Homo sapiens: one gene and its partners. The main gene of each other region encodes a partner of the protein of the gene in region 4 in a complex. Each region holds a gene or a part of one and is shown on either strand. Other genes may lie near its edges.

Region 1 (7,024 bases), on a different chromosome or scaffold from region 4:
GTAATGTACAAGACTTGTATAAGAGAAAAGAACTTCAAGAATTTTAATTGGGCAAAAATGTTTTCACTATCTTACAAATTTTTAATTTTTTAAAAATGTTATACTTCTAAACTCTCAATGTAAAAATTGAAATTGTAATGCCAAACAATATGGAAAAAAATTAAGTAACCCAATACCCAGGCTGTGCTGAAGATTCCCAAGATTATCTCCTGGTTCGCTGACTTTCTAGAAGGGCTCACAGGACTTGGAAATCATCACACTCACAATTATGGTTTACTACAGCAAATGGATATAAAGCAAAATCAGCAAAAGGAAAAAGTACATGGACCAAGTCCAGAGGAAACCAAGTACAAGCTTCCAAGAGTCCTCTATCAGTGGAGTCAAATAGGATGTACTAACATTACTGGAGAGTAATGAGTTGTGACAACACATGTGACACATGTTGTACAAAAGAAGCTCATCAGAGACAGTGCCCAAGGTTAGGGGCTAGTCACATAAGCCTAGCACATACCAAAATTCTGGATGCCCGGAAGGGAAACAGATGTTCAGCAAAAATCACTATGTGTGCACAAATGCACCGTGAGTCACCTTATAATTTAGGGAAAGTTTTCTATCAGTGTAGGGAGCTGTTTATCATCCAAGTTCCCAGATGCCAGCTAACGGCCAATCTTATCAGCAGGCTTTTCCAAGGATAGCAGTCTCAGGTCTGCTATATTAACTCTTTTCTGCACACAGGGTAGGTATTAAGTTTAAATGAGTCAGTGAAGCCTTCTTCTAATCCACTAGCTACTCTTCCTACCTGGAAATACTAGCTCCCTGGAATACCTTCAAGACCTTACAATTCTATTGTAATAAAATACTTACAGCCTCGACTGGAAATATAATGCAAGCAGTAGAGCCTACCATTGGTCATCCTGAACAAAATAAATAAAAACACAATTTTTAAATCCAGAAACTTAGAAAGGTGAACCTGCCAGGCTTGGTGTACTTTGGAATGGCAATGACAGGTCCTTTTTGATTCAAAACTTAGTTGGGTCCTGAATTTTCTAAAAAAGTCATTTCTGTAAACACACTTTTCACAAATTATAAAACTAGGTATTGGTATCCATCTTGATTTTTAAACTTGTATCTTAACTAAATTACTAAAAGGGCACTTTTAATGAAACTACATTTACTGCCACTAATGAAATAAACTGTAGAGTAGTTAAAGCTAGTCTGAGCACCATTTCTGTCTCTTTTCCTTCTTCTGCCATCATCCGCCCCTTCGTTCTCATAGACCCTCAGTGCCCCCAGGCACTGTGGCATCCCACTTCAACTTGCCTTCCAAAATTATGCTCCATTCTCCTGACTTTTCTAGTTCCTGCCCTTCTACTCCTATAATTCTTCCATCCAATCAAGACACGCCGTTTTCTAGAAGGACAAGTAATTAGGAAAATTATAATAAATTATTAATAAGGGCTGATGTTAATAGGAGAGCACTAATCTCCCCATCTTTGTTCCTTCCCTGAGTTTTGCTCCAATACAACTCTTTGTCATTTTTCTAATTATTATAAAAGTCATAATGCTCAAAATATAAAAAATTAGTAAAATAAATGAAGGAAGAAAATTTTAAAAATCATACTTCCTCCTTCTAAAACTTCTACCACTGTAACACTGCTATATTCTTCCATTCTTTTTACTATGTAGATGTATGTACATATTTACGTTCTGGGTTGAACTGTGCTCCAAAAAGAGATATGTTCAAGTCCTAACTCATAATACCTGTGAGTGTAACCTTATTTGGAAACAAGAGTCTTTGCAGATGAAATCAAGTTAAGATGAGGTCATGCTAGATTGGAATGGGCCCTAAATCCAACAACTGATATCCTTATAAGAGGGAAATGTGGACACAGACACACAAGGAAAAATGTGAAGATGGAAGCAGAGATTGGCATTATGCCACCACAAGTCAAACAATGCCAAGGACTGTCAACAACCATAAGAAGCTAGAAGAAATGGCCAGGCGCGGTGGCTCACACCTGTAATCCCAGCACTTTGGGAGGCCGAGGTGGGCGGATCACCTGAGGTCAGGAGTTCAAGACAAGCCTGGCCAACATGGCAAAACCCTGTCTCTACTAAAAAATACAAAATTAGCCGAGCATCATGGCAAATGCCTGTAATCCCAGCTACTCAGGAGGCCGAGGCAGGAGAATCGCTTGTACCCGGGAGGCAGAAGTTCCAGTGAGCTGAGATCGCACCATTGCACTCCAGCCTGGGCTATAAGAGTGAAACTCCATCTTAAAAAAAAAAAAAAAGAGGCTCGAAGAAACAAGGAAGGATTCTTTTCTAGAGACTTCAGAGGGAGCATAGTCCTGCAGACAACTTGATTTTGGACTTCTCACCTAAGAACTATGAAAAAATAAACTGTTGTTTGAAGTCACACAGTTTGTGGTAATTTGTTATGGCAACCCTAAGAAATTAACATAGTATATTTTACAAAAATGGGATCCTCCAATACATACTATTTTATAACCTTTGTTCTTTGATTTAATAATACACAACTGATGATTATCTGTGTCACCCTAACAATCCTTTTAATGGGTACCTGGTTCCTATTTATGGATGAAGTATGATTTATTTAGCCAGTATCACACCGTTAAATATCTGGGTCATTACCAATTTCTACTCTTATAAATAACGCTGCAGTTAACATCCTTTAATTACTGCAGCTATTGAATTTACTACTATTCCCAGAAATCCAGACAGGCTGTATCTATGCTCCTATGAGCAAAGCATGAGTGCACCCATTTCCCATCAATATTGGATTTTATAATTTGAAAAAAGCATTGCCAATTTGATAGGCCAAAAAATGGTATAGTATTTTATTTACCTTGTGAACTGCCTGGGACATAGAAAGACTAAACAAATGTTAGCTGTTGTTTCACTATATTATTGTTAGTACAGAATCTACCATTTCCCCACTAATCTGAAATGTCCATTTCATCATTTACTAGATTTTTCTATGCACTGAGATCTGAACTTTCTGTTTAGTCCTGTATTTGTTGCCCTCCTCTCATAATCTATACATATATGATCAAAAGAGACCTGTAAAGTATTCTTGGCTTAAGCCATTGGAGTTATTCTAGTGGTAAATATTTTAAACATAAAAGCAAGAAACCACCTGTGGGATATGGATAGGGGGAAAGAAATGAAAGCAGAGAGGTTTTTATCATGTCATCAAAATCACAAGTGCTATCACAACTTAACCTTGGTTTCTTCACATACCAAGAGGTAGCCTTGTCTTTTTCTGTCTTCTTTGAACAGGAGCCTCTGGGTGCTCTTTGAGTTCTTTAGTTGATGGCTCATTGCCCTCAGAGGGCCTTCGACCAGCAGTCTGAGCAAGGCCTTCCAAAGAAGCACTTGCTATAGAAAAACAGAGTAGAAAAAAATGAGATTACTTGAGCAAAGATCACTGAATCTTAAAAAGATGGAGGAAAAGGTAACTAGAATGTTTCCTATAGAATAACCCCATCTCTTTCAGAACTAATTATCCCCCAAATCTTTCCTTCCTCCTCACCTGTAACTTTGGGCTTTAAGTTAGGAAAAGAAATAAATGAAGGAATAAGAAAGGCTGAGGAAGAAAAAACGAGGGGGCTAAAAAGAAGAGCAAAAGACAGGAGGAGGAGAAATTGCTTCAGAACATTTAGAACTTTGAAAAAGGTGGAAAACATAATAAAAACTGATACCATAGAGAATTCTCTTACTTGCCTCTTGCCTTAAGAATTTTCATCAGCCTCTATATAGTAAAGTCCTTCATTAATAAGTTAAAGAATAATAAAGTCATCATGGATAATTGGAGTTAGCAGGTAATTTATAAGTCTCTTCATTTGGTCATTCACTTCAACTTCTTCCCTCATGAAATCTTTTAAAAGAATTTTAACACATACCTGACTGCATTCCCTTCCTTGCTTGTCTTCTTCACAAAAGAAATAGAAATTGCACTGGGTGCAGTGGCTCATGCCTGGAATCCCAGCACTTTGGGAGGCCAAAGCAGGCGGATCACATGAGGTCAAGAGTTCGAAACCAGCCTGACCAACATGGCAAAACTCCCTCTCTACTAAAAATACAAAAATTAGCCGGGTGTAGTGGCATGCGCCTGTAGTCCCAGCTACTCAAGGAGGCCGAGGCAGGAGAATCGCTTGAACCCAGGAGGTGGAGGTTGCAGGGAGCCAAGATCACACCATTGCACTCCAGCCTGGGCAACAGAGCAAGACTCCGTCTCAAAAAAAAAAAAAAAAAATAGAAATGTATCAATAAACAAATGAAAATGTTTAACCTCAGTAGTACATAGAGAAATGTAAACTAAAATAAGCTACTTTTCCCCCACTAAATTAACAAAAAAATTTTAAAGATTGATTATTGTCCAATGTTGTTAAGGATTTAGAGAATGAGACACTCTCAGACTCTACAGGTAGCAAGATAATAACTAAAGCTTCCTTAAGGTAATTTAGCAGAGTCAGTCATACTAATAATGCACACATCCTGCACCTAGCAATTCCACTGCTAGCAATCCATCCTACAGAAGTACTTCTTCCCTACCACCCACTATTTTATGCAGAACTGCAACATTGTTGGAGTGAAAAATTGGAAATAACCTAAATAAATAACAGAGCAGTGATTATGGTACATTCTTATCATGTAATACAATGAAGTCACTGTTTAAGAATACATAGAACTCTATGTATTAAGAAACAAAGATAGTATGTATGATTCCTTTTATGTTTTTGTTGTTGTTTGTTTGTTTTAAAAAAGGAGCAGCAACCACAGAAACCTTTTAGGAGTGTGAGAGGTCTCAAGTAAAGAGTGAAGTTAAAGGATCAGGTAAAGATAATCTTGAGGTTTCAGGCCTGAGGGCTGGGAAAATGGTAGGTTCCATTAACAGAAAATCATGAGACGTAAAAAAATTATTTATTCTTAAAGGCAACGATGGATTCTAGATGTGCTGAGTTTAGAGTTACGGATGCAACTTCCAGGATTATCAGTGGATGACTAAGACAAAAACGAGTTCTGCTCATGACTGAAGCTTTACTATTTAAATGATGATGTGGCCATGCCTTCAGACTCATGCTGTAATGTAGAGATATTCTGATTGAAGTGAGATTTAAGAACTCTGTGTTTCTAAATTCAGTATCTTGTTCAAGGGTCTGGAATCAATCATAGCTTAAAACCATGTATGTTGTCTGGGGATAAAAGACCTTAAAGAGTCCAGGAATATCATGGAAATAGGAGCTTAGATGGCACCACCTTCTATTCCATGAATGCGTCCAGATACTCCTCAGGCTGCCCACTGCCCTGTACCTCACCACCACCAGGAATTCCACTGCTTCAAACTGGCCTTAATTCTATCCTCAATGAAGTGGAGATTCGGGGCTGCTGGGGCCTTAATTCTCCCTTATCTGTGATGTTTACTACGCCTGAGGTCCTGGGAAAACTTGTGATCCCACACAACAAAGAATAACGTCTTACCTGGTGTGTTTTTTGTTCTGGGCTTCTTTTTCTTAGGACGACTAAGTGGAATATCATCTATAAAGCAAGAAAAAACGTCAACAGAAAAGGGTGCCTAAAATTCAATGCAGAGAACAGTCAGAAGAGAACTTTTAAACAGGGAAGAATTCTCCCTCTCTTCCCTGGGCCTGGCAAACGTTTATAGATTAGGGGAAGAAGGCAAGAAATTGAGAAGATCAGAGAGAGCCCACAGTGTGGTACCAGTAGCACACTGCATGTCAGTAATGTTAGAAACCATGACACAGAAAGTGGGTTCAACAAATATTCATCTGATCCCCTATATTTCCCAGCCTCCTTGCACATAGGTGTAGTCTATGACTGGTTCTGGCCTATAGGCTGTGAGCAGAAGTGATCTGTGTCATTTCAGAGCCAAACGTTGAAAGAGCCAGTGAGTAATCTTCCAGCTTTCTCTTCCCTTGTTGTGGTGACTGAGGAAGCCTCATGTTAAGATGGTGGGACCACAGCACAGAAGTAGCCTAGATTGCAGACCAGGCGCAGTGGCTCACACCTGTAATCCCAACACTTTGGGAGGCCAAGACAGGCAGATCACTTGAGCTCAGGAGTTCGACACCAGCCTGGCCAACATGGCAAAACCCTGTCTCTACTGAAAATACAAAAAGTAGCTGGGCATGGTGGCACACGCCTGTAATCCCAACTACTCAGGAGGCTGAGGCAGGAGAATGACTTGAACCCAGGAGGCAGAGATTGCAGTGAGCCGAGATCACACCACTGCACTCCAGCCTGGGCAACAGAGTGAGACTCTGTCTCAAAACAAAAGAAAAAAAAAAGTAGCCTAGATTGCTATATCAATAGTAAAAAGGTAGTGAAAGGTAATGGTCCCCCATTTTTGCCATAGCAGACTTTGTATTAATTAGAAATAACCCTGTGTGACACTAAGTCACTGAGATTTGGGGGTTTTAGTATAGTATAACCTTGTCTACCCTGACTAAATGAGACAAAGGAAGGTGCAGTCCTCATTATAGAGCTACAAATTAGCCAACAGTTATGTGCTGGGTGACCCCATTCAGGGATGAAGTGCTTTTATAATGGAAAGGTCATCTAGTGCTATGTATCAATGACAATTTTTAAATGGTAGTCATGGGAGATTATTTCACAAAAACATATTGTAGAATTACAAATTACACCATTCAGACTCAGTTTTAAGAGAAACAAACCAAGGAATCAAACTAATTTTTGAACACCAAATATTATATTTACATTAAACTAACTCACCTTGACTAACACGTCATATAACACCAAACAAATTTAATCAGCAGGACAAAGACAAAAAAGAAACAATTAATTAGAAACCTGTTAATATTCACAGTGAAAATTGACTTAAATCATTACAAATTTAAAATAAAATTAGCTTTCACATAATAGCTAGTTTACAAACTAGTTTACTGTTTATAATTAAGTGGTTTAATAACACTGCTAATAAAATAATGTCAATATTTTCTGAACCTACATATACATATTC
Region 2 (7,061 bases), on a different chromosome or scaffold from region 4:
GCCTGCACCAGGCATTTCAAGCAACCGGTGTTCCAAGTGTGGCCCCTCCGCTGAAGAGCCAAGAGGCAAAGACAGAAGGAAAGACCTATAAGGCCTTTGAGAGAAATGATTTGGGGACTTGGAGTCACAGGGACCCTGATTTGAATCCCAACTCTGCTTCCAACTCACTGTGATCTTGGGAAGTCGGTTTGTCTCTGAGCCTCGACTTCCCCATCTGTAAAAGGGGGCTAGGAGCACTGGTCTGGGGGGTCACTGTGAGGAGCCCAGAATCACAGGGGCTCAGGACTTCGTGGGGGTGTAAAGAGAGGGCACATGGGATTATTATTGTTACTGTTGGTCTCAGCCAGCTGCCCTCTCTGCCTCTTACCTGAGACGGGGCAGAGCAGGACTCTAAGAAGTCCCCTGCCCCAGGACCCAGGACAAGCTCCTGGGAGGAGGATCTGGAGACCCCAGCGCCAAGTCTGTATGCAGGATGCCTGCCCCTAGTGTGCACCCCAGGGCTCCCCACCCCTTGAAGGTGCTGAGGGTGGACCCCGATGACCAGGGCAGAGCAGATGGAGGGCTGTCCTCAAGGAGGCCCAGCTTCCTTAGAGATGAGTGAGCTCCCTGTCTAAAGAGAAAAGCAAGCAGAGCCGGACACCCACTTATAATGAGCTTCTGGGTGGGAAGTGGGGAGCAGACTGTGGGGCCAAGGGGAGAGGCGTTCAAGGAAGACTTCACAAGAGTGGGCTCTGAAGGCTACATAGGAGTTCTCTGGGCGGATAGGTAGGAGATGATGAGCTAGGTAGAAGGAACAGCATGTGCAAACCAGGAGGCATGAAAAAGCAGGAGCACCCCAGGAATGACTTCAGCAACAAGAATAGCTGCAATGTATACACCTACTATGTGCCCATAAACTTTTTAATTAAAAAAAAAAAAAGAATAGCTACAAATGTATGGAACTTTGACATATATTATCACATTTAATCCTCACAACAACCCCCTGGGTGTGATGAGGAAACCGAGGCTCCGAGAGGTTAAAGGACTTTCCCTGAGTCACATAGGATTCCACTGCAGGCAGTCTGATTTTGAGCTGGAGGGGTGAGGGGTGGAAGCTGGGCTGCAGAGATCGCAGGGCTGGATGGAAAGAGATGCATGGTAGACCTGCAAGGCCCTGGGACCCGGAGCTGAGCTCTGAGGCTTCAGTCTCCTGAGGTGCAGGGTCCAGGCTGGCTGAGGCCTCCAGCAAGAAGGGCCCAGACAAATGGCTTGGCCAGGCCAGCATCTTCCTGGACACCTGGTGCCGCTGTGAGGGGGCCCTCATCTCCCAAGAGTGGGTGCTCACAGGCGCCAACTGCTTTGACAGGTGGGTGCACAGCCAGGAGGGGTGGTGGAGAGGGGCTCCAGGAGGGTGGCCCCCAGCCTCTCCAGCTCTCCACCTCCCCTTCACCTCCTCTCTCCACAGTTGGCCTTGGTCCCACTTCAGTGTGACCTTGGGTCCAGATCGACTGCAGATGGACTCTTGTGAGATCAGGTTACCATGGGGGAGCTGCTCTTGTCCTCAGCAGGGCCCGAGGGCTCTGGGTTTGGTAGCCTGGTCCTGGCACAACTGGCAAGGGGCAAGGCCTCCGTCGCTCACCAGCGCTGTGCAGGCCGTCCCCCTGGCCACTCAATCCCACTGTTCCCTCTTCCTGAGACAGCTCTGCTGGGGCCAGGGGTTTGAACCCGATTTCAGTAAGGATGGGAGCAGAAGCCTGGGATGGTTGAGAGACTGGGGGAGGCAGATGGCCAGGGTGGAGCTTGGGACCCTGCAGGGGCTCTGGCCAGCTGCCCGGCAGCACCATGGCCATAGGCATGCAGGGAAGAGGGCTGGCGCTGACACCTGCTCTGCTCAAGCCAGCTTCCAGCCTCACCCCTGCCCAATGGCTGACAGCCCCGCCTGCCCAATGTGCTGGAAGCTTCCCTGAGGGGACTGCGTGGGAGTGTACCAGAGGACAGAGCTGTACTAAGAGTGAGGTGGGAGCGAGGAATGTCTAGGAGCCCAGGAAGGCATCTGGGGGTGGAGAGACTTGGCACAGGCACAGGCAGGGAAGCTCAGCAATATATGTTAACAACCAGCATGGCTGGACTGGTGCAGATCGGCTGGATGTCAGCTGGGCTGAGGGTCTGCCCCACCCCATTGCAGATCCCTACATCCCACCCCAAGAGCTGCAGAGTGTCCTGCTGAGATCGCTGTGTGTCAGCATCTGCAGAAACTACCTTCTCCTCCAACCTGACTGTCCTGACCTGAAGGACAGCCTGCCCAAGGACTTCTAGTACACCAGGCTCTCCACTGGGCCCTTGAACTGGTGGTAAGGATTCCAGCAGGCCCTATGCAAGCCCCTATGCAAGCCCCTGAGACCCCTCTCCTAAAGTCGCTTCTAATGCCACTAGACTTGTTAAAGTTAGGCCTGGTCACCCTCCCATCCTATCCTGGAGTCTTCCATTCCCCAACACCCAGGGGTCGGGCTTATTTGTACCCCTGAAGGCCACCCTAGAACTTCCCACCCCTTGGGGAGACTCCCCCATTATGTCCTATTTGAATGTGGGGCCACCTTTGGTATAGCCAGGTCTTAAACTACTGGGAGCCCCCAGTTATTCGATAACTACAAGCATTTTGCTGAAAACTAACTTGTGTGCAACACCGAGCCTCAAAGGCCAAAGGGAGGAAATAATTGGGTGAGACTGATAGAATGTGTGGGAGAAAGCACTTTAACTGGAAAGAGATGGACAGAGCGGGGGAAGAAGGGAGTATGACCCCCTCTCCAGGAGGGGAAATGGGCCCTGTCTTGGGCTCTGGGTGCAGCACTTGGGCCACCAGCCCACCCATCCCCTCCCCCAGCTGCTCTTGTCAGATGTGTGAACTGGTTACCCGCTGCCTCCCTCCCCTGATCAAATATCTTTGCTCACTAGGCAGGGGGTGGTTCAGTGGGTGCAGGCTGGGCTGAGACTGCTCCTTCCCTCCCTCGTGCAGATGGTTGATGGGACTCCCCTAGTCTGCTCCCAAGCTAGAAGCTGCAGAATGTGATGACCTGGGGTCCCTGCTCGGAGCCTGGCCTCCCGGGAGTCTACACACCTGTGAATCCCTTCATTTCCTGGATCCAAGATAATGTCTCCAACGTCTCCTTTGACACCTCTGCCAACAGATGCTGTTGGGGCTGGCCCAGGACAAGACAGAGGCAGTGAGGGTTGTTAGCCTCTGGAGTCCTGGGTTTGAATCCTGACTTAGCTACTTACCTGCCTTTGCCATCTGAATCTGTTTCCTCCTCTGTAAAATGGAGATGTCTTCAATTATTCATTTATCAACAAGTTAGTAGTTACCAAGTGCTTACTCTGTGACAGGCCACTAAGATACAAGACTGTATCTTGACAGATTCGTGGATTTTGGCTAGCAACTCCCCTGAGCGCTGGCTGATTGGGGTGCCAGGCGCCGCCCGCTGCGGGCCTCAGTTTCCCCAGCTTCGAACTAAAGAGCGATGGCTTGGATGTAAGGATTCTTGAGGTCCCTCCCAAGTTTGTTTAATAAACTTTTTCGAGGGCAAGCGTCTCCAAGCCACAGGGGCGCATCCTTTTCACCTGCTTGGACGCTGCTTGGCCCCAGCTGGGGAGGCTCCTCCGAGCACCCGGCATTCCAGAGTTAGCCCCGACAGCTGTGGTCACGTCGCCCGTGCTCTGCAGCGCCTCCCTCCGCGTCCTCGCGGTGGGGCCACAGCGACATCTAGTGGCTGAATGTATTTTAAACACTCGGCTTGCTGAGGGCGTGAGTCGGAGCGCTGCTCCCCAGGACTCAGCTCTCATTCGCCTCTGCGCTTCGGCGGGGACGGGGAGCCGGGCCGAGTCAGAGTGAACACACACTCCCTGCGCGTGCAACTGAGTCGAGCGGTAGGGCTGGCTTTACCCGACAGGTCAACGCTCCCGCCCCAGCTCTCGGTCATACCTGCCCTAAGGAGGGGTGGAGCCTCGGCGTGGATCCCCGCCCCTTGTGCCCCGCCCCCTTATAACGGCGCCCGTTCACTGCGCCTGCGCATGCCACACGCGCACTCGCGTGGCCTTCGCGAAGGTGTCGCTGCCAAGAAACGTGTCCTGCGCGCTACGCCGTCTGTTTCTAGGGCAACGCCGGCGTCTCTTAGCAACCGCGCGCGGCCTAGGTGGGTCCCCCCGGCACCCCCAGACCTGCCATGGCGACCGCGAGTCCTAGCGTCTTTCTACTCATGGTCAACGGGCAGGTGGAGAGCGCCCAGGTGAGCGGCCGTGGACCCCGCCGGGGCCCGCCCCCCAGCGTCCCCCGGGGCCCTTCCCGCAACCCCCCGGGCTGCCCTGTGGCCCCCGGAGAGCCACGTCATTCCTCTGAGCCTCTCGGTTAGGCGGGGGAGGGGAGCCAGCATTGGAGAGCTTGGCGCGAGGTTGCCCGGATCCTGAGTCCCGATGTGCAGGAATAGAAGCAGACCTCGAGATGTTGAGCTAGTACCGAGGTCACACTCGGGCAAGCCTGTGGGCCCTCGCACGGGTCATGCCCACTTGCTTGGATCACTGGCAGGAGCCTCCTGGGGTTAACGCGAGGAGCCGAGGCTTGGCCGAGTTTCCAGCATTTGCGCTGTGTCCCGTGTGGAGTTACTGTCCCGCGTTCTGAATCCCCAGATCCTTGAACTCGGGTTCGAATCCAACCATCCAACAATGGTGGTGGCCTGGAATTGACCCAAGGAAGGTGTGCCTGCTAGGCCCGAGGGACGCTATTCCCCATCCCCCTACACTTTAGAGGAATCATTTATTGTAAATATAAACCAACGCTCACCAAGTCCTCAATATGTCCCAAAGTCGGTGCTCCGCACTGGTCCACCCTTACAGCCTTACCAGATAGGCACTACTAACACCCCCATTTTACAGCTGGGGAAATATACCAAAGGAACTGGCCTGTCTGGGAATTGAACCCACGCCTATCTGACCTCAAAGCTTCACTACACTGTCCTTCCAGGCTGTTGGAGGTGGTGTTTATTATTATTTTATAATATTATTGTGAGGATTGACTGAGACGGTTTGGGTAAGGCTCTGACAGGGCCTGATGCTTTGTAGGTGTCTCCTGCCTTCCTATTTCATCAGGGATACTACTCCATGCTCCCACCCTGTCCGCCTCTGCCTTAGCCTAGTGCCTAAGACCGTCTTTCCCCACTCTCCTGTCCTTTCCTATTAGGGGCTCTCGGCTGGGCTGAGTCACATGTGTCTGTGCTCTCAGCATCAGCGACCCCCCCGCCACACACACACTGACAGTCACACTGTTCCTCCCTGCTCTGCTCTCAGCACCTCCCTCTTTTCAGGGCCTCAGCTCCAGCCTTGCATATGATGGCTTCCTGGGTTCTCAGACCTTTCACTTCAGCACCATTCCCTTACACCAGTGGTCCTCAACCTTTTTGGCACCAGGGACTGGTTTTGTGGAAAACCAGGTGGCGAGGGATGGTTTTGGGATGATTTGGGGACATTACATTTATTGTGCACTTTATTTCTATTATTACCTTGTAAATAATAATGAAATAATTATACAACTCACCATAATGTAGAATCAGTGGGAGCCCTGAGTTTGCTTTCCTGCAACTAGATGGTCCCATCTGGGTGTGATGGGAGACAGTGACAGATCATCATGCGTTAGATTCTCATAAGGAACATGCAACCTAGATCCCCCACATGTGCAGTTCACAGTAGGGTTCGTGCTCCTATGAGAATCTAATGCCGCCACTGATCTGACAAGGAGGTGGAGCTCCCGTGGTCATGCGAGCAATGGGGAGCAGCTGTAAATACAGTTGAAGCTTTGCTTGCTCGCCTGCTCCTCACCTCTTGCTGTGTGGACCCGTTCCTAACAGGCCACGGACTGGTTGAGGACCCCTGCCTTAGACCTTATCTGTGCCCAGCCCTGTGCCAGGCAGTGGGGACACAGAAAGGCATTAAATCTCTTCTCTACTCATGGTCTAGAGGAACTGACAGACTTAGACACAGGCAATCATTGCTTTTATGGAGGGAAGCACGGGGCTAAGGGAGCCAAGAGGAGACCTTAAACCAGCTTGAGAGTTAGAGCAGGCTCCCTGAAGGGTAAGTTTTGAAGGGTGAGCAGGAGTTTTCCGGATGAAGTAGGAAGGACAAATCAGACAAGGCAGAGCCTGAGCAAAAGCCAGGGGCCGTGGCACCTGGGAGTCTCCCGTGGACTCCCGCTTCTTGGTCCTCAGCCTCTCCTCTGAACACATCTCCAGCCGTCTCTTAGACCCACTCCCAGGTGTCTCACGTTCAGAATTCCCCTTGGCTGCACCTGCCTAGCAAATGCATTGGCCTCAGCATGAATACCAGTCGACAGAATCTGTCTGTGCTTTTTTCAGTTTCCAGAGTATGATGACCTCTACTGCAAGTACTGCTTTGTGTACGGCCAGGACTGGGCCCCCACAGCGGTAAGCTGGACTCTTGGGCCTCCCTTACCGCCTTCATGACTTTTGGGGTTTCTGAAGGTGTCATATCCTTCCCCTCCCCATTCAGAACAAGTTAAGAGGTAGAGACTGAGTTCAGGGGAACCCAAACATGAGTGTTCCTGGTAAAGCGGGAGCAGAGGACACAGCCATGGTTGGACTCCCTGATCCATCCACCAAGACTGCACTCAGAAGCCCTACCCTGTGAGCTTCCCCGGGGCAGCAAAGAGCAACACCTGCAGTAGGAGGCAGGCCCCAGTGAGCCAGCCTGGACGTGGCTGAGCTGTGGACACTCTGGCCAGTCCGCTCACCATTTGGCCTCTCCTCAGCCAGTGGGGAGGACCTGGAGTAAAAAGACAGAGTAGGAGCTCTCCTTCCAGGACTTCCCAAGGGGTAGCTTGCCTCCACCAGGTGAGGGACTGTGGTGACAACTTCAGCCCGCTCTGTGCTCTGCTGTTTGCAAAGCACTTGTTTCATCTTCATAGCAGTTTAAGAAAAGGAGACTGAACTTATTTAAGCTCTCTGAGCCTCAGTTTCCTCATTTGTACAACTGAGATGATAATCCTTCTTTTCCCTTTATTGATTGTCTTCTGGGTGCTG
Region 3 (7,024 bases), on a different chromosome or scaffold from region 4:
TATTCCCTTCTCCATCCTTGCCCCTTTCTCCTCTTCAGTCTAAGCTCCGTGGCAGCCTTGGCACTAGTCACCCACTTGCTCACTGTGCCTGTGACTGTGGAGCTAAAGGCTTGAACCCTTTTCATCTACTGCCTCCACAGCCCCTGGCCTTGGGCTGCACGGCTGCAGACTGACCCCACAGGAAGGGGTTAAAGCTTCGGAGCTGTGTCTGGCTGTGGGTCTCCTCAGTCCCCAGGAGTGGCCAGAGAGCTAGCCCACGTGGCCAGGCAGTACCTCCCCAACCACCTGGACCCTCCCTTGAAAGGCTGAAAGTGACTCCTCTGCCCAGATTGCCCCGAGGAGTGTGCTGAGCAAGGGGGGAGCTAGGAGGGAGGTCTCTTCTGTCTCCCTATGACCTCTTCATCTCTCCTGGCCACCCCTCTCTGCAGCCCCTTCACGTGACTGCTGGCTCAAAATGGCGCTTCTCTCCCCTCCCTCCCCTGCTGGCATCTTGATTGTTCCAAGCAGAGCTCCCATCCACAATAGCTGCTTCCCTGCCTCCCTTCTCAGAGGACAACTTCTTACCAAGGACTTACCTTGAAAAGATTTACCCTGCACGGGATGCTCCCAGCCTAGGAGGGGAACTCCTGCGGAGAGGTGGGGGAGGATCTGCCAGCAGGCTCGGGAGAAAGGAGTTGGCTTCTGCCTCAAAGACAGAATTTGGGCTTGGAGTTGGAAAAAGAGGGAGTTTCCCAAGATTTGTAATCGTGTACTGCCATCTACTGCCCATCATAGTCCATGGCCTTCAATGAAGCACTAAAACAGGCTCCTTCCATCTTTTCTAGAGTCCTCTCTCAGGAGATGGGAGAAAACTTAGAGTAAAAATGCTCTAAGTATGGACCCCCGCCTTATTGTGAGGCTCATCTATAAGTCTCTGAATCAGGCTCCTGCACCCTGGACCACCCATCTGCATCCCCGCCTCACAGCCCCCCAGAGCAGGCCAAAAGTTGGTACCAAAAGAAGGAAGGCTGCCCTTGTGGATTCTGTATGGCCCTGGGGATGCAGGCGGGTTGTTGATCAATGACAATACGCAGACACAGTTTCTTGTCACTTCTTACCTGTTTCTTTCTTGGCTGTCTTCGAACCTTTGAGTTCTTATTCTGTCTTCCCATGTCTGCATCCTCATCATTTTCAATGAACTCCTTTGTGAAAATGCAAAAGGGAGAGAATCTTAAGACAGGAAGAGAGGTATGACTTTTAGGTATTAAAATTAAAACTCCCATCTTGACCCTGGGCTTCTATCCAGTAATGCTGAGTGTGAGTTGGGGGACAGTTAACAATCTGTGCGGCTCTCATCATCCACTCTTCTCAACATAGACATGTTTTCGAAAAGTCGTATCCATATTGGACCATCATACACGAGATGATGTTGGATCTTCCATTGTTCCAGGTCCTCATTCATGCATACAGCATTTATTGAGCATTTACTATGTTCCATGCTCTTGGGACACAGAATTGAAAGCCACATGCTGTCTGCTCTTAAAAGTTACAATCTAAGAAAGGCGACTAACAAGTGAATCTGCTAGGACAGACATCACAATCATATTAGGGATTTCACCGGTTAAGTTTTTCTGCTTTCCAGCCTTACCAGCAGGAAAAGGATAATAATGATACATGTTACATCATCACAAATGCTTCAAGTTAAAGGAAATTTTGGCAGATTTTTTTTTGAAAAGGAAAACAATCCTTTAACAGCGCAAACTTCGTTTCCTCTTTCCACCTTACGCTTTCTAATATTTTAGTCATAAAATGTTAGAGCTGAAAGCTCTAAAGTCTACGAGCTCTAAAATGTTTTAGTCCTAGAGTTTTATAGACTGGGGCACAAGTGCCCCTGGGTGAACAAAAAGTTGCAAGATAAACAGAACCTCTCTGGGGTACACAAAACTTACTAGATTTTTTTTTCCTAAAATTAGGATTTTTTTGTTTTTATACTGAAACAAATTCGGAACACAAAGTATGAATTTTAAGGATATATAATTTCAAAGAAATATCATGCAGGTTTCTGGGCCAGACCTCAATTACTCCTGACTGCCCTTGGCCACTGGGGTTAGGGAAGACATGAACCGCAATAACAGAGGACGGAAGTGAGGTCGAACGAGAGAATAGCCTTGGTTTGGGCCTTTCCTTTGTGTATGTGACCTGATCTCTGACTTGTCCTCTGAGCTGCATCCTCACTCTGGACTCCTTCTTTGGGCCTGACTAATAGGGAGTGTTCTTAGTTCAGGGGATTCGCCAACTTAGATTACAAGAAGATAATTATATTGAGGTGTGCAAGCATGGCTTTTAATTCAATTCTAAGTTTTTACTGACTTAGAATGGACTTGTGAGAAACCTACGTAATGTTTTGCTTTTCCGTGATGTTTTCATCCTCTATTCTAACTATCCAGTAGGACTTCAAATAAGATAGAACGTAAGTTCCATGAGGGAACAAGGTTTGTTTACTGCTGTATTCCCAGGGACTACAGGCACAAAATATATTTGGTTATATGAATGAATAAGCAAATATAAATTTATGTGGGTTTGTTGGTACTTGATCTTGCTTAAAGTTTTTTTTTTTTTTTTTGAGATGGAGTCTTATTCTGTCGCCCAGGCTGGAGTGCAGTGGCATGATCTCGGCTCACCGCAACCTCCGCCACCCAGGTCAAAGTGATTCTCCTGCCTCAGCCTCCCAAGTAGCTGGGATTACAGGCATGCCTCACCACGCCTGACTAATTTTGTATTTTTAGTAGAGATGGGGTTTCTCCATGTTGGTCAGGCTGGTCTCGAACTCCCAACCTCAGGTGATCCACCTGCCTCGGCCTCCCAAAGTGCTGGGATTACAGGCGTGAGCCACCGTGCCCAGCCATCTTGCTTAAAGTTAATCTGCATGGTTTTATAATGAGTTTCCTCAGGCTTTTTGGAGGACTGCATTGGACAGCACATATCATCTCCATTTCTGTCTTTGTTGTCTCAAGCCAGTGAGCCCTTGAAGCGAGAGAGAAGTAAGGATTGAGAGGAATACTCTCTCTTTTGTTGGATGGTCTGCAGTCTCCAAATTAGACAGCCTCCCTTCTCTGGTGTGGGCAGTGCTTTAATGAGTTTTTACATACAATGAGTCAGAAATTGCAGGACTCCACAGACAGAGGCTTGTATTAGCAGGTGTCTACAATTGTTACCTTCATTCTGAATGTCTTTAGAAATCAGCGTGCTTCAGGCAGAGCTATGCTCAATAATAGGTAGTAACTTTGAGCTGCTGTGTGTCAGAGTTCATAGAACCGTGACAAAACAGCTTCGGAGCATTCAGGTAGAGGTAAGACCTTGGAATGTCAGCAGGACTGCATTTCCTTCAACATCCACCTCCCCTTCTCCACCACGTCTCTGATATAGCACCCTCAGGGTGCATTTAGTCGGTGTGTGTTAAATTAAACTAAATGTGGCTTGAGGATACCTCTGTACTTTGAGTTCTTACATAACAAACTGCAATCTTAGTAAACTAAATGAAAGCCTAATTTAGAAGTATGCTTCTGTAGCAGGTAGCTGAGTCTCAGCCAATCACAGCAGCTGAGTGTCAATCAATCACAGGTGGCCTACTGATCAGACTGTGTTTAAATAAGGCAACACTGAGCTGTAACTAATCAAGCTGTTTCTGTACTCCACTTCCATCTTCAGTCCATAGATGCTGTCTGCCCACAGAGCAGAGCAGAGCTCTCTGAATCTCTTCAGGTTCTGAGGGCTGCCCAATTCACAAATCGTTCTTTGTACAATTAGACTCTGTTGAATCTAATTCATGTAAAGCTTTTCTTTTAACATGTGCAATAGATGCTGGTTGGCCTAACTTCCTCATTCACAAACACGTGTAACATAAGCATGCACACACAAACACATCCCTAGAGGACATCAAAGTGGCCACTTACCTCTGTAATTATTTTTACTTTTTCTTCCCTGGGATTCATTTTGGCTGGGATGGGTCCCTGACAAAGAACAATGAAGAAGTCAGGCATTTTGAAATCAATGAAATATTGCTTCTCTTACTATGGATATGTAAGAGGCTGGCCATGATGGTAAGTGAAGTGTTTGAGCTGGGTAGACTTTCCACTCACCAGGAACCCTGGCAGACCCCAGGATTGGTGGAGATAAGTGCCAGAGGAAAGGAAGGATGCCAGGTCTCCCTGTCCCTGGGAGCCTGCCTTTACTGTGCCCATAGAGTTGGATGGCACTGGTTGGAATCCAGCTCCAGAAGGACCATTTTACAGCTCATCTCCGCTACTGCCCCTCTGCACTCTCTGCCCTTGACCTTGGCCCTTATTTCACCAAGTAAAAAGACAAGACCAGAGAGGGCTTCTACATCCCCTTCCCCTCCCACCACATGGAGCCACCGCCACCTCCTCTGCTTCCACTTGCTACTATGAACCCCCATGTCCCATGGGGCCCCTCCTTGAACAGTGCACTAGGCCCCATCATTCCTCCTCCTCCAGGCCCTTGATCCTGACAATTCTTCACTTTCATCTGGATTTTCTTCCTGCTCTATTGGCTCATTCCTACCAGTGGAAAAAATGCTGTAATTTTTTCCTTCCTTTAAAAAAAGGCCCCTGCCCCCTACACTTTTTCTTTTGAGACGAAGTCTCACTCTGTTGCTTAGGCTGGAGTACAGTGGCACGATCTCGGCTCACTGCAACCTCCGCCTTCCAGGTTCAAGGGATTCTTCTGCATCAGCCTCCTAAGTAGCTGGGATTACAGGCGCATGCCACCACGCCCGGCTAATTTTTGTGTTTTTAGTAGAGACAGGGTTTCACCATGTTGGTCAAGTGGGTCTCGAACTCCTGACCTTGTGATCCGCCTGCCTGGGCCTCACAAAGTGCTGGGATTACAGGCGTGAGCCACCGTGCCCGGCCAAAAAAAGCCCTCTCTTAACTTTACTTCTCTTTCTAGCTGTTGCTCAATTTTTCAACAATTATAGAAAAATCCCTCAAAACATTCCCTCTCTTTCCAGTTTGTTTTTTTATTTTTGGGGTCTAGCATACTCTGCAACTGCTTTTGCCAATGATTCATCTCCAGTGACCCCTGCGTTGCCATGTCCAGTGATCAGTTCTCGGCCCTCATCTTACTTGACTTGGTCAGAGGCATTTAAAACATTTTCTAAGTTTTTAATTTTTGTGGGTACATAGTAGGTGTATATATTTATGGGGTACATGAGATATTTTGGTACAGGCATGCAAAGCTTAATAATCACATCACAGAAAATTGGGTGTCTATCCCCTCAATCATTTATCCTTTGTGTTAGAAACAATCCATTTATACTCTTTTAGTTATTTTTAAATGTACAATTAAATTATTATTAACTATAGTCCTTTCATTGTGTTATCAAATACTAGGTCTCATTCATTCTTTCTATTTTTTTTTTGTATCCATTAAACAACCTCCCCCGACCCCTGACTACATTTCCCAGCCTCTGGTAACCATCCTTCTCTTCTCTATCTCCATGAGTTCAATTATTTTGATTTTTAGATCCCACACATAAGTGAGAACATGCCATGTTTGTCATTTGCATGTTCTCACTTACTTGTGGGTGAAATAAGCCAGGCATGGAAGGGTCAGAAACATTTAGTGATGAAAGTGACCCATCCCTTCTTTTGAGATACTTTCTTCAGTTGGCTCCTGGAACAAGTTCTTTCTTGGTTTTCCTTTTACCCACTGACTGTTCCTTCTCAAACTCCTTTGCTGGTTTCTCCCTATCTCTCAGACCACCAAAGATAGGAATGCTGTGGGGCTTAGCTCTGCCTGTTTTCATTCCTCTGGCCATCTCATTATGTCTCTTGGTTTTAAATACCATCTGCATGCTGATACTTCCCAAATTTACATCCTGGGTCCAGACATCTCCCCAGAACTCCAGACTCAAGTATCTGCTTGATGGACACCTTCACTTGGCTTTACATACCTCAAATAAAGTTCTTTGCTTTTACTCCTGAGCCTGCCTTGTACTGCAGTTTTCCTGTTGTAGTAAACAGAAATCCATTTTGCTCAGGCCAGAAACCTTGCAGTTGTTCTTAACTCCTTTCTCAGTCTCACATGAATCCATCAGAAATCCTGCCAGTTTTGGCTTCAGATTATTTTCAGGATCTAATCACTTCTAAACATTTCCACTGTTATCACCATGGTCAAACACCATCTTCTCTCTTGAAATCTACTGCAAGAAACTCCTAATTTCTCAGCTTGCCACATTGCTGGGCTACCATATTCTCTGCATTGAAGCCAGTGCAAATTGATGAAAATTTGAGTGACATAATCACATTGCTTCACTCAAAATCCTCCAATGATTTCCCTTTGTCAACAGAGTAAAACCCAAAGTTTTTTCCAAGGCCTACAAGCCCTGTGTGATTTGCACTTGAATCCTGTTGCCTCAGGACCTTTGTAGCTGCGGTTCCTGCTACCTAGTTCTCCTTTTTCCCAAGATATCTGCATGGCTCTTGCTGTTTCACTTTCTTCAGGTCTCAGCTGAAATTTTATTATCAGAGAGCTCTTCTCTGACCATTCGTAATACAATGATCTCCTCCCAACACCCTCCTGGAATTCCCTAACTACCTTACAATGATTTTTTCACAGTACTTATTACCACTCAACATACATACTTACTTGTTAATGTCAGCCCATATCCATTAGAATATAGCTGCAAGAGGGCAGAAACATTATTTTGTTTATTGTTTACCCCCAGAGACTAGGATTATGGGACATCATGGACATTCAATATATACTTGTCGAATGAATGATTAAGTCACTGACTTATTGGCTGTGGTTCCATAGCCACATTCTGGGACTATTTAAAGCTCCACTGTTTCTTCTAGGCTGCTGTGAGGATTAAATGAGAAAACACATGGAGAAACAACAGGCATATGGCTGACAAATCATAAGCCCTTTCTAATATCCTTGGAACCCAAATCTTAACTGGGACTTGGTCAGGTCATTTAAGCAGCTCATCTGAGATCAAGGTTTCACTGACCCTACAGGGGAA
Region 4 (7,661 bases):
GGCATGTGTAATCCCAGCTACTTGGGAGGCTGAGGCAGGAGAATCACTTGAACTGGGAAGGTGGAGGTTGCAGTGAGCTGAGATTGGGCCACTGCACACCAGCCTGGGCAAAAGAGTGAGACTCCATCTCAAAGAAAAAAAAAAAAAAGAAACCCAAAAAGAAAAAAAAATAACAACTGTATGGTAAACAAGGAATTCTTATTTCATTCCTGTTGGTGAATGTCTGTGACTGTATGTATGACTTTCTTTTAGAAAAGGTCAAATGCAAATGTGAGACCTTTCAAGAATGTGAAGTCTGCTCAAATAGTCCTTCTGTCCCCGTAATGTTTCAGAAAACACTTAAAGAACAAGAATAGGCTGGGCGCGGTAGCTCACGCCTGTAATCCCAGCACTTTGGGAGGCCGAGGCGGGTGGGTTACTAGGTCAGGGGTTCAAGACCAGCCTGGCCAAGATAGTGAAACCCCGTCCTACTAAAAATACAAAAATTAGCCAGGCATGGTGGCGGGCACCTGTGGTCCCAGATACTTGGGAGGCTGAGGCAGGAGAATTGCTTGAACCTGGGAGGTGGAGGTTGCAGTGAGCTGAGACCGCTCCACTGCACACTAGCCTGAGCGACAGAGCAAGACTCCATTTCAAAAAAAAAAAAAAAAAAAAAAGAACAAGAATAGTACTCAGTGGTTGATGAGGTACGTGGGGACTGGGAGAATGAGAGCAGTTGAGGATTATTTTCTTCTGGGCGTTGATCTGGAAATCAATTACCCGACTAGTTACTTCAGTCAAAATGGTACAGCCAATCCTCCGTCTTCACACAGTCTTGATCCCTTTGTAGATCTAAAGCAACCCCTTTAGGAAGCTTTGTGACTCTGCCACCTCATTTGTGAAATGTTTGGGAGAGATTAATAAAAATAGATATACTAATCACTAGAAAAAAATTTCTACTTTTTCTTTTGAGACAGGGTCTCACTCTGTTGCCTAGGCCAGACTGCAGTGGTGTGATCATGGCTCACTGCAGCCCTTGACGTCCTGGCCTCAAGCGATCCTCCCACCTCAGCCTCCAGAGTAACTGGGTTCACAGATACGTGCCACCATGCCCAGCTAATTTATTAATTTTAAACAGGTTGGAAGCCATGACTTCAGCAATAACAAGAACAACAACAATAATAACCAATTCACCTCAAACCACACCAAAGAGCAAGACAGAGTGGTTGACACTACCTTGTGAAGTTAGCCTTAGTTTTTTTTCCCTACTTACATACTCCTCCTATCTTTGATTTTTTTTCCTTTCAGGCTTCTCATATATGGCGACTTCTCATATATGGCAGCTTCTCAGCACAGAATTCTAAAAAGCTGAATTGTCTTGATCCTCCCAATGTCAGCATACACTATAAGGAATTGTGAATGCCAATAATCCTGGAGAAACAGATGGATATTTGAAATCACAAACATTTATGCACAAACCAAATGTTGAGGTTTTGGGCACAATATGGAGCTCGATCTTAGCCACTCTTGTGTCCTTCCATCCTAATGAGGGAACCTGCTAAGGCCAGGGACAAAAGGAAGGGAGAAAGGGTGTTCTGGGTTGAAAGATGAAAACAGGCTGGCAGAAATGGGTCACCTGTGAAATGAAAAGTTCCAGTGTTCCTAATGTTTGCAAACTGTATCTGGGTAGGTGCAATCCTCATTCAGAGTCAAATATCATAAAATTACTTTGGGGCCATCTACCACGTGTTTGTTTGAGATTGGACAAAAGAGGCGGTGAAATTGGCAAATCATATCATAGCAGGTCCTGGTTGGAATAATGGGATATCAGACTTGAAGAGGACCTCAGAGGTCCTATAACCATAACAAAAATTATAAAACTGGATGGGAGTGGTGGCTTACGCCTGTAATCCCAGCACTTTGGGAGGCCAAGGTGGGCGGATCACTTGAGGTCAGGAGTTCAAGAACAGCCTGGCCAATATGGTGAAACCCCGTCTCTACTAAAAATACAAAAATTGGCTGGGCTTGGTGGCAGGTGCCTATAATCCCAGCTACTTGGGAGGCTGAGGCAGGAGAATCACTTGAACCTGGAAGGCAAAGGTTGCACTGAGCCGGGATCCTGCTACTGCACTCTAGCCTGGGTGACAGAGTGAGACTCCATCTCAAAAAAAAAAAAAAATTATAAAGCTAAAGGATGAGTTATCAAAATTTAATCCAGCAGTCTAAAATTTCAAAACAGAAAATAGAACAAAATGGTTCACAGGTATTAAGGAATAGGAAAGAAAGTAGAGGGCTGGAAGTAAAGAGGTTTAAAAAGGAAAACAAACAGGCCCTGGTTTTAGAAGTTATGAGATGAAGGTTTGGAAAATATACTTTTTTTTTTTTTTTGAGACGGAGTCTCGCTGTGTCACCAGGCTGGAGTGCAGCGGTGTGATCTCGACTCACTGCAACCTCTGCCTCCCAGGTTCAAGCAGTTATCCCGCCTCAGCCTCCTGAGTAGCTGGGACTACAGGTGCCCACCACCATGCTCAGCTAATTTTTGTATTTTTAGTAAAGACGGGGTTTCACCATGTTGGCCAGGGTGGTCTTGATCTCTTGACCTCGTGATCCACCCGCCTCAGCCTCCCAAAGTGCTGGGATTACAGGCGTGAGCCACCATGCCCGGCCTACTTTTGGTTATTTTTTTTAAAAGGGGAAGCATTTAATCAGTTATTAAAAGCAGTCCAGAATTTCAGTCAGATGCTAAAGCAATCCTTTGCAGAAAAAAAGAAGTATCTGTCTTACACATTTGAGTGATTCAATTATATTTTTATACACTGTCTCTGGAATGCCACAGGAAGGTGCTAAAGATATCACTTTGATGATTTAGTTTTGCTAAATACATTTAATAAACTAGATATATATACTGTTTGACATCCTTTTGAATTGGTATATACATTTCTTGAATAAATACTGTGTTATGTTTAAGGTTTTTTTGTTTTGGAGTGCAGTGGCACTATCATGGCTTACTGCAGCCTCAAGCTCTCCAGACTGAGGCGATCCTTCCACCTCAGCCTCCTGAGTAGCTGGGACTACAGGAATGTGCCACCATACCTGGCTAATTTTTGTATTTTTTGTAGAGATGTGGTTTCACCATGTTGCCCAGGCTGGTCTCAACTCCTGGACTCAAGCGATCCTCCCAAAGGGCTGGGAGTACAGGTGTGAGCCACTGTGCCTGGCCACGTCTAAGTACTTCGACATCTACTTCTGAACTGTATGGAGATTAAGTGTCAAAGGTGCAGCCAACATTCTTGGGCTTGGGTACCTCCTAAATAAGCCCATTCAGAATGGAGAGGGTTTCCTAAATCGTAGGGTCTCCAGGTCGTTTTGTAGCATTACAGTGGATTTGCTTTGTTTTCCCCTTTAAGATGTCTAAATTATTTTACTTAATTTTTGTAAAAGATTTTTGTCTTTAAATAGGTTCTTAGGCCTGGCGTGGTGGCTCATGCCTGTAATCCTAGCTCTTTGGGAGGCTGAGGCGGGAGGATCACTTGAGGCCAGGAGTTTGTGACTAGCCTGATCAACATAGTGAGACCCCCTCTCTACAAAAAATAATAAAAGGTATTAAGTGTTCATTTGTCCCCTTTATCACAATACAGCAGACAGAAGTTATCTGGCAACCTTGTGAGATGCAGCTAAAATAAAAAGGTGAAGCCAGTGTTGACAGAGTCTGGGATAGAGAAAATTCAGAGACAGTGATCTCACAGATCCCTGTGCTCCTTCCAAACACCCACGTTAGTGGCGTTGGGACGGCGCTTCCTAAATTTCCGTCCAACTCATCTGCTTGCGTCCGGACATTTGTTAAAAATATTTATTCCTGGCTGGGAGTGGTGGCTCACGCCTGTAATCCCAACTACTCAGGACTCAGGAGGCTGGAGCAGGTGGATCACTTGAACCAGGAGTTCGATACCAGTCCGGGCGACGGAGGGAGACCTCGTCTTTACAAAAAAAAAAAAAAAAAAAAAAAAATACAAAAATTAGCTGGGTATGGTGGCGCGCGCCTGAGTTCCCAGCTACTCAGGAGGCTGAAGTGGGAGGATTGCTTGAGTCCCAGAGGTCGAGGCTGCAGTGAGCCGAGATCGCGCTACTGCACTCCAGCCTGGGCGACAGAGTGAGACCCTGTCTCAAAAAAAATCCCCCAAAAACTGATTCCTGGGTCCTGCCCTAGACTAACTGACTCAGGATCTCCTGAGGTGGTACCTGGAAATCCGTCTTTTTTTTTTTTTTTTTTTTTTTTGGTTGAGACAGAGTGTCACACTGTCGCCCAGGCTGGAGTGCAGTGGCACGCTCACGGCTCTCTGTAGCCTTCACCTCCCGGGTTCAAGCGATTCTTCTGCCTCAGCCTCCCGAGTAGCTGGAACTACAGAAAATCTGCATTTTTTAAGCAAGCGCCGCGGACCGGTTGGAAACCACAGCCGGGATTTACACGCCCCTCGTTTACGCCAGCTTCACACCCGCTCACTAGTGCTCGCCCCTGTGCCTGCCATCGCTGCCTCACCCAGGCGCCGCCCTCCGGCCTCATCCGGGATCCGCCCCCTGCCTCATCCAGGCTTCGCCCCAGTCAGTCTCCGGCAGCTTCTCGCGGCTTCGCAAGCCCCTTCCCGTGATGCCCCGCGCCTGGCTGTCGCGGTTGCCGGGCAACGCGCTGTCCATGTCGCGGGCCTCGCTGGGACTCCCTGGGAGATGAGGCCGCGAGGTCTCCCGCCGCTCCTGGTGGTGCTCCTGGGCTGCTGGGCCTCCGTGAGCGCCCAGACCGATGCCACCCCGGCGGTGACGACAGAGGGCCTCAACTCCACCGAGGCAGCCCTGGCCACCTTCGGAACTTTCCCGTCGACCAGGCCCCCCGGGACTCCCAGGGCTCCAGGGCCCTCCTCCGGCCCCAGGCCTACCCCAGTCACGGACGGTGGGTACCATGTGCCAGCTCCTGGAGTCCACAGTGATCCAACCTCAAGGGGACAGCCCCGGTGAGGACGTAATAATGATAGCTAACTCTTATTGAGCACTTACTGTGTGCAGACACTGCTGAGTGTTCCATAAACGTCCATTCTCTAAACAATAACCCTGAGAAGTAGCTGTTACTATCACTGTCAGGTAAATGAGAAAACCGGGTCTCAGAGTTTAAGTGGAACGGTATCAAACCTTTGAAAATACTTGAAGTGGTCCCAGACAACAGTGATGCAAAGAGCAATAATGAATTCTTGCAGCCCAAGACGAAATTAAGTCGAGACAATGGTGGAAATTAGTGCCTTGGCTGCACTGAACTTTCACTTAAAGAGAGGCCAAAGGTCTATCTTACTAAATGTGACTATGTTAAGACCCTTCTCTGTTGACCTGAATTCTAAAAACCCAGGATTCCTCCTGTGTTGAATTGGAGGTGGAAAGCTATTGAGGGAGGGGTTATGCTCACTTCTTAGGAGTCATATGTAGGGATAATTAACATTTTTTTCAGAAAATGATTAATTCTAGAATTACACATTTAGTGGAAATATTTTATAATCTAATTTGACGTTTGGCTGGCGCCGTGGCTCACGCCTGTAATCCCAGCACTTTGGGAGGTCAACTCGGGTGGATTGCTTGAGGTAGGAGTTCAAGATCAGTCTGGTCAAAATGGCGAAACCCAGTCTCTACTAAAAATAGAAAAAATAGCCGGGCATGGTGTAATCCTAGCTACTCGGGAGGCTGAGGCAGGAGACTCGCTTGAACCCAGGAGGCAGAGGTTGCAGTAATTACCACTGCACTCCAGACTGGGCGACAGAGCAAGACTGTCTCAAAAAAAAAAATTGACATGGATGACTTCACTGAATGACTGTGACCCGCTAAGATTGAGTGCAAAACTTTGTGAATATGCCTTTTCCTGAGATGAGAGTTCATAGCAGCCGATTCTTAAAGTGGTTCATGATCTCAAAAAAAGTTTTTAAAATTTTCCGATTGTGTGAATTGAGAGTAACCCCAATAGATATGCAGTACTTTTAATCTTTTTTTATTCTTTTTTTGTTTTTGAGACAAGGTCTCGCTCTGTTACCCAGGCTGGAGTGCAGTGGCGTGATTATATCTCACTTAAGTCTCAATCTGCTGGGCTCAAGGGATCCTTCTGCCTCAGCCTCCAGAGTAGCTGGAACCACAGGCGTGCTCCCCCAGCTTGCTTTTTTTATTTTTTTATTTTTAGTAGAGATGAGATCTCGCTATGTTGTTCAGGCTGATCTCAAACTCCTGGGCTCAAGTGATCCTCCCACCTTGGCCTTCCAAAGTGCTGGGATTACAGGTGTAAACAACTGTGCCCAGCCTATCCCTTCTTAAGAAGATCTTTTCTCAAATTGATTAAGGCTCAGTATTAGTAAGTAAAAAAGTCATCAGCTGAGATCTTGAACTCTAGGACTTAACTGCGGTTACTGAACCTTTATTTCTCCAAAAGCTCTCCTTTCTGAATTACGAGTAATCTGAAAGAAAAAGTACAGAGAAATATATTTGCTATTTTAATATATAAACAGAGCTCTGTTTTATATTTAAATTGTTGATTTGATGAATTAGTAGGGAAGTTAAATCAGTGATAAACTGGGACAGAAGAAAGCCAAGTATTCAATGCCTGAAACTCTAAAGTTTTTGGACTGGATTGTCTTTTATTCATGTAAGTACTCCATCTGTTAATGCATTTTCTCTCCAAAATAAAGCTATGCTTGAAACATCATTATTATAGCATGTGTTCAAGGCTGTTTTTCCAGTATAGGGGATGAATTTGTGCTTGTCCTCACACTTTATTTTTTTTTTTTTTGGTCACAGGGTCTCACTCTGTCACTCAGGCTGGAGTATAGTGGCATGATCACAGCTCACTGCAGCCTCGACCTCCTAGGCTCAGGTGATCTTCCCACCTCAGACTCCCGGGTAGCTGGAACTACAGGTGCTGCATGCCACCACGCCCGGCTAATTTTTTGTAGGGACGGGGTTTCACCATGTTGCCCAGGCTGGTCTTGAACTCCTGGCCTCAAGTGATTGCCCACCTAGGCCTCCCATAGTGTTAGGATTACAGGCTTGAGCCACTGCACTCTGCCAGTCACCTGTCTTCACCTTTTTAAAGGACCTCTCTTTAGACTTGTGACAGTAATAACTCATTTGTTAACTGTTCACTGTGTGGCAGGCACTGTGCTAAGCATTTCACCTATGATGTATCTCATTTAATCCTTACAACAACCCCATGATGAGGGTACTGTTATCCCCATTTTTCAGGTGGATAAATTATTTGCCTAATTTTAGGACACGCAACTTGTAGATATCGGAGCAGGAGGCTGACTGTGAGTGGAGAACTGGATGGAAAATTGCAGGTGGCTTCAGGCAGTGTTGGTGGAGAAGAGTGATAACCCTTCATCTTGAATCTGGGCTCTGTTCATTAGTACCCTGCTCTACAAGCCAGGTGTGCAGATGCGATAGGAGGCAAGGGCAGCTGAGTGCTGCTTAGACCTGACAGGGGCTCAACAGCTACTTGGTGGATGATTAAGTACACTCGCATCCTGGGTAGAAACCTTTTTCCTAAGTGGAGTTATTAAACACTATTGCTTCGTCCTTAGTAGTCTTACAGCTGCCTATAAGGGCTTTAAGTTTTGAAAACAAAGCAAGATAGTAATTTTAAACATACAGGGAACCTAAAGCAC

Evidence for each region.
Region 1: TCTN1 (region 4) and TMEM237 share a complex: the UniProt entries of both Homo sapiens proteins name them as parts of the tectonic-like complex.
Region 2: TCTN1 (region 4) and B9D1 share a complex: the UniProt entries of both Homo sapiens proteins name them as parts of the tectonic-like complex.
Region 3: TCTN1 (region 4) and CC2D2A share a complex: the UniProt entries of both Homo sapiens proteins name them as parts of the tectonic-like complex.

What each region holds. Positions count from the first base shown.
Region 1 is NC_000002.12:201,633,484-201,640,507, forward strand, and holds part of TMEM237 (transmembrane protein 237), read right to left. Parts: intron 6,783-7,024; coding exon 6,778-6,782; intron 5,563-6,777; coding exon 5,506-5,562; intron 3,403-5,505; coding exon 3,265-3,402; intron 1-3,264. UniProt on the Homo sapiens protein: Component of the transition zone in primary cilia. Required for ciliogenesis.
Region 2 is NC_000017.11:19,359,705-19,366,765, reverse strand, and holds the start of B9D1 (B9 domain-containing protein 1), read left to right. Parts: upstream 1-4,042; 5' UTR 4,043-4,196; coding exon 4,197-4,259; intron 4,260-6,377; coding exon 6,378-6,446; intron 6,447-7,061. UniProt on the Homo sapiens protein: Component of the tectonic-like complex, a complex localized at the transition zone of primary cilia and acting as a barrier that prevents diffusion of transmembrane proteins between the cilia and plasma membranes.
Region 3 is NC_000004.12:15,472,880-15,479,903, reverse strand, and holds part of CC2D2A (coiled-coil and C2 domain-containing protein 2A), read right to left. Parts: intron 6,683-7,024; exon of another isoform or gene 6,649-6,682; intron 3,990-6,648; 5' UTR 3,972-3,989; coding exon 3,933-3,971; intron 1,182-3,932; coding exon 1,098-1,181; intron 693-1,097; exon of another isoform or gene 682-692; coding exon of another isoform or gene 576-681; intron 1-575. UniProt on the Homo sapiens protein: Component of the tectonic-like complex, a complex localized at the transition zone of primary cilia and acting as a barrier that prevents diffusion of transmembrane proteins between the cilia and plasma membranes.
Region 4 is NC_000012.12:110,609,482-110,617,142, forward strand, and holds the start of TCTN1 (tectonic-1 isoform 1 precursor), read left to right. Parts: upstream 1-4,647; 5' UTR 4,648-4,701; coding exon 4,702-4,921; coding exon of another isoform or gene 4,922-4,982; intron 4,983-6,795; exon of another isoform or gene 6,796-6,831; coding exon of another isoform or gene 6,832-6,871; intron 6,872-7,266; exon of another isoform or gene 7,267-7,423; intron 7,424-7,661. UniProt on the Homo sapiens protein: Component of the tectonic-like complex, a complex localized at the transition zone of primary cilia and acting as a barrier that prevents diffusion of transmembrane proteins between the cilia and plasma membranes.